2 separate regions of the Homo sapiens genome follow, and region 2 is linked to region 1. The links come from fine-mapping of genetic effects on gene expression. Tissue or cell type: whole blood. Region 1 holds a variant in brackets; the other region holds the start of a gene. All regions are shown on one strand. Distances are between the middles of the regions.

Region 1 (2,681 bases):
GACCAGCCTGAGCAATATAACAAGACCTCGTCTCTACAAAAAAATACAAATATTAGCTGGGTATGGTGGCACCTGCCTATAGTCCCAGTTACTCCAGAGGCTGGGTTGGGAGGATTACTTGAGCCCAGCAGATGGAGCTGCAGTGAGCCGTGATCTGTCACTGCATTTCAGCCCTGGCGACAGAGCAAGACCTTGTCTCAAAAAAAGAAAAGAAATTGCCTACTAGCTCTTATATCTGACCTTAAATTTTGTCTGTGGCAGGAGGGGGAAAAAGCACCAGCCACCTAAGTGGGCAGGGGGAGCTGGGATTTAGAAGTCAGCATCCTTGTGCCTCTGCTCTTTGGTTAAATGACCTTGAACAGGTTATTCAACCTCTTTACGTCTCAGTTTCCTCACTGGTTTTTTAGGATTAAATGACGCTTGCGAAGGGTCTGGAGCAGGTAGGCACGCAGAAACCATTAGCTGGGACAGTGGAGGTCTTCCTCCTCCTCCTTTACCTGCCCCACAGCTGCACGTGAACCACCGATGGCGCCACCTTCTCCACCACCGCGGCGATGAAGTTGTAATTCCTCCTGAGCGGGCCTGCGCTTCTGGTCCCTATGAAAAAATACTGGCTCAAGAGTACGCCTCGAGGGAACCAGACCTGCTATCCTAGTTGGAAAAATGTTAAAGGCAAGACAGTGTTCAAAAGGTGCATGGGGAGGGAGAAACCACGTAGCAGCCGGTAAAGAGCCCCTGTTAAGGAGGAAAGGAAATCAGGAACACAGAGGTGTCGAATCCAGGAGGCAAATGACGCAGGAGGACCAGGCGCGAACTGTGCGGTCTCAGTGAGGTCTTGTTCCTTTACGCTCCTCCAGAGTTAGAAAGTGTTCCGAGGGCGCGCGCCCCCGCGGCTCACCTGTATCCCCGCAGTTCCCCCACTGCACAGGCACGGCCGGGACCTTGCCCAGGCGGCGCGCGGCGCGGTTTTCGGCCCGGAGCGCGCACATGCTGGGGTAGGTGCGCCTGTCGCTGCCGCACACGGCCCCTCCCAGCGTCGGGCAACCGCAGGTGCTGGGGAACCCGGGGCGCAGCGGCTGGAGGCACTGCAGCCCCGGGGCGCACGGTTGGCCCTGCGCCCCGCCGCAGACTTCACGCTCGGCCGCGGGGCAGACGCGGCAACAGCGGCACAGGTCGAACACCGGCGTGGTCCCCAGCGCGCAGGTGGGCAGCGCGGGGCAGCGCGTGGGCTGGCAGACCGCGGGGCAGGAGGGCTGGGTATGTAGCTTTTCAGCCCCGGCCCAGAGGACGGGCACCAGGAGCAGCAGCAGCCCCGGCAGGAGGCATCGTCCCAGCCCCGCGGTCCGCAGCTGAGGTCTAATCATCCTGTTCCTTCCTCGCTTCCACTCTTCAGTGACTTTACTCTGGACCTGCAAAC[C/G]CTCCTAAATGAGAGACACTTTCTCCCGGCCACGGCGCCGCCTCCGCCGGCCCCCAAACTTTAAGGGGCAGAGCCTGGCATACCTCTGCATATACACACCCGTACATCCCCTACCACCCGCCCCCGTCGGCGCCCCGGAGCCAGGTTCTCCCCCAGGCAATGAGGGGAAGGTCTCTAGCCCTACCCGGAGCAGGAACCTACCTCCTGAAATCCCTAAAACCGACAATGAGGGCAGACTGATAAGAAAGCTCACCCACCCATGGTCAGAAGGTCAGTATTAGGAAAACACATGACCATATTTCAGTATTTCACATGGTTTTATTACAAAACAAGCCACAAAACAGTTTTAGAAAATTTTTGCTACATACCAATTAGGAGATCACATAAAATGAGAAGCGTAACAGTTTCCATGCACTCAGCCTAGAGCTTACAGCGAGTGCATTTCACAGCTGAAACATCACTGCTTTAAAACACAGAATCATGCTACCCCTTCATAAGCAGAGGGGGAGGAGGTCAAACAGTATGTTTTTGCCAAACGTTTGCTTTATCTGAACTCTATCTAGTATGAAGGACTGGCTGCCGCAGGCAATAACACAGAGAGGAAAAGGAACAAAGGAAGAAAAGGGTGCTGGCAGACAAGATTTAACAAACCTGTCCACTTCCGACATTTTGAAAGTTTATAAACAAAGCTCACTTGGGGACACTCAATTTCCAAAATGCTGTGACCTCCACATGTTATCTAATTTATACTGAAAACAAACCTACTAAACTCCACTCCTCAACTACTGAACCTGCTATTTATTCATGGGGTCTTTTTAGCCCATATAAGAGTATATTTATATTCAGAAATATAAAAGAAAAAAAATTTGCTTCAAGTAGACTAAGAAGCTGGACCTTAAAACTACTTTCTTTCTCGTGGGAGCTGAGTATTCAACTCAGAAATAGATGTATAACTCCAATATTCTGACCTGACATCAATCTCCATAATGTATACCTCAATACCCTTATGATGTCTCACTTAACACTAAAGGCCAAATTATTTTTACCAACCATCAGCTGACATTGAGTAAGCAAGTCTTTTGAAGATTTCAAAAGTAATAGATGGTGGCCAGGCGTGGTGGCTCACACCTATAATCTGAGTACTTTGGGAGGCTGTGAGGCAGGAAGATCACTTGAGCCCAGGAGGTCCAGGCTGCAGTGAGCCATGATCAGGCCACTGCACTCCAGCCTGGGTGACAGAGTGAAACACTGTTTCTAAAAATAA
Region 2 (2,681 bases), 73 kb after region 1:
AGGCGGCACATGGTGAAGAGGGCTAATGTCTGAGATGATGATGATGCTTTCTAAAAGCTTACTCTGGCTTCTCAAAACAAGTGGGGGGCTTACAAGTCCTGTAAGCTCGCCAAAGACAGGGTCCAGCCCTCCAGAGGTAAAGGAAAAAGAAAAAATAAAGACAGGGGTTGTGTTTTGTTCATCACTGCCTTGCATGTATAATACATGTCAACTGAATGCAACTGAAATAGAAAGCAAAAACTTCTATTCTTTCAAGATCTTTTGCTTTGCTGTTTCGGAAGGCTTCGCAACCAAAGAAAAAAAATGACAAAAGAAGGGAAAATGGGACTTGGTCAGATAGATTAAGAACACCATTAGTGCAATCTTGGGACTTCAGCCCCAAGTGCATCTACAGCTCAGCCTTCAGAGCCCCCAGAGCCACAGCTGGCTTTCTGGTGGGGTGCTCTCCCCTCCCTCTTCTCTGCCGTTTACTGTCCTCTGAAAACCCCACTTGGAGCCCTAAAGAAAGAAAGGGGGCGGGCAGGAAGAAGGAATGAGAAGGGGAAGATACATCCTGAACCTGCGTTCACCAAGAAGGAAGGAAGCCAAACCCTAAGGCTAGGGCCTGGGGGCAGGGCTGGCCCCGGGGAGGAGATGTGAGGGTGCTCCGGCCGCAGCGGGCCCTGCGCCCCTCTCTGGGCGTGCAGGGACACTTTTCCCTTCTAAACGGCCTAGCTTCCCACCACCCCCCCCCACACCCTTCTTTTCTCTTTCTTTTTAAAAAAATTTTGGTGAAATCGTCTTTAGGACTGGAGGAGAAAAGGGAAGCGTGTAAGGTGAGGAAGAAGTTGGTGAGAGAGAGAACGACAGCTCCCCTCGAGGGCTCACCCAACCTGGCACCGAACCTGCATTTTAGGGCAGTCCTTTTCACTGTCTGGAGTTCCAGAAGCCCGAAGTCCAGGCTGCACCCAGAGGAAAGGACAGGAGTCCCTAGGGGAGCCTTCTAGGCCTGTCATTTAATAAGGTAGTCGGGGGAGTGAAAGAGGAGTCTCCATGGCCCAATCCGTACCCAAGGGACTTGCCTGGGGACGTTCTCTGCTCTCCTCCCCTCCCGCAGCCCGGGCAGTCGTTGCGGGGTCGGTGCCCCAGCGCCAGAACCCGCAGAGAAGTTTCGCTGCTGCAAACGTGAGAAAATGCAGCTCAGCAGAACTCCCGCCCCCACCCTCTCCGCGGCCCCACCCCCCGCAGCCCGACCCCTGGCGGCGGCGACCTTGGCCACCCGGGGCACTTGGAGGAGGGGCTGCCCTCGGGGCTCTCCCAGAGGGTTGGAGGAGGCCTCCAGGGTCTGCGGCCACCTCCCCTCGCCTGTCAGCCACTAGGACCGGCGTATTCAGCCCTGCGCGCGCGCCCCTCGCGCCCCTAGGCCGCCAGGCCTCCGCCGGGGCGCCCCCTGCACCCCCAGCCCCGCCAGCCCCCGCGCGCCCCTCTGCGCCTCTCCACTCCCGAGCCCGCGAGGGCGCCCAACTTACCCCCCCGTGCAGGGGCCGGGGCTCGGGCGGGGCGCGTTACATCGGGCGGGGTCGCCCCTCCGGCCGCCGGGTCCGCCGCGCTCCAGGGATTTCTGGGTCTGCCTGCCAAACTCTCCGCGCCTCTCGCTCCCCTCGCTCTGGTCTCCCCCAGTGCCCCCTCCTTCTCTCCCGTCCCTCGGCTCTTTTTTCCGGGTTAATTACGTTTCGCATTAAAGCAAAACCCAGCCCCGGATGTGAGTACAATGCTCCGCGGAGCCCGCCGGGGAGGGAGAGGGGTGCCGGGGCGCCGCGGGCTGGGAGGGGGTGCGGCCGGGCGCCGGGGCCGCGCGGGGGAGGCGGGGGCGGGGCGCCCGGAGGCTGCGCCCGAGGCCGCCCGCGTTCCGCGCCTGGCAGGTGGGACCTGCGCGCCGAGACTGCCCCGCGGGGAGGCCCGGCCCCGACGCTCGCTCGGGCAGCAGGTGTCCGGGCAGGGGGCGTCCTCGCAGGAGGAGGCGAGCTGGAGCGCGAGCTCCCTCAAGAACCCCATTTCCTCCTCCCAGAGCCCCACCCAGCGACCTCAGCTGGGCCTCCTTCGGATCCCGAGCCCTTAGCCTTTGGGGACCGAGGAGTTGGGGTAAGGGTTAGGGTCCCAAGAAGAGTGGCTTCTTCAGGTTGTCCTAAATGTGCCCTAAGAGACCAGTGGGCGGGAACGCTCTAACCAGGGTTATAAGGACTTTAATTTCTTTATTTTATTTTATTTTTTAATCAAGACAGGGTCTGGCTCTGTCGCCCAGGCTGGAGTGCGGTGGCGCAGTCATAGCTCACTGCAGCCTCGACCTCCTGGGTCCAGCGATCCTTCTGCCCCAGCCTCCCGAGTAGCTGGGACCACAGGCGCCTACACCGTGCCCGTTGGGACTTTTTCGGTGTGATGCGAAGACTCCCTTCCTGCCCCCAGAGCATGAGGGTGCTCTGGGAAAAAATGGGAAACAGACAAGCATGTGTTACTACGTAAACCTCGCCAAGAGGAACTAAGAGAGCTGCTGTGCGCGGGTCCCGCCCCTGCGCTATCTCATTTGATCCACGCCGCAACCTATGGGTACCAGTCCGGTTCACGGTGAGGAAACCGAGACTCAGACTTGTGAAGTAATTTGCCCTGGGTACCCAGTTAGTAAACGGCAGGTCTGTCAGGTTCTG

What was found. PIP is the estimated chance that this variant, and not a neighbour inherited with it, causes the effect.
Region 2: PLEKHA2 starts here. The variant in region 1 is fine-mapped to the expression of PLEKHA2 in whole blood (TOPMed, PIP above 0.99).

Annotation. Positions count from the first base shown.
Region 1 is chr8:38,972,947-38,975,627 of GRCh38, reverse strand. It overlaps PLEKHA2 (pleckstrin homology domain containing A2), which reads right to left. Exons shown (of 12, transcript NM_021623.2): 12 at 1,716-2,681. It overlaps HTRA4 (HtrA serine peptidase 4), which reads right to left and starts at 1,400. Exons shown (of 9, transcript NM_153692.4): 1 at 899-1,400; 2 at 498-597. The coding sequence starts at 1,364. RefSeq lists an enhancer at 764-823 and a silencer at 1,004-1,233. The variant C/G (reference allele first, on the strand shown) is at 1,418.
Region 2 is chr8:38,900,273-38,902,953 of GRCh38, reverse strand. PLEKHA2 (pleckstrin homology domain containing A2) reads right to left here and starts at 1,608. Exons shown (of 12, transcript NM_021623.2): 1 at 1,509-1,608. It overlaps LOC124901937 (a long non-coding RNA gene), which reads left to right and starts at 1,509. Exons shown (of 2, transcript XR_007060893.1): 1 at 1,509-1,741; 2 at 2,258-2,681. RefSeq lists silencers at 937-1,606, 1,687-2,096.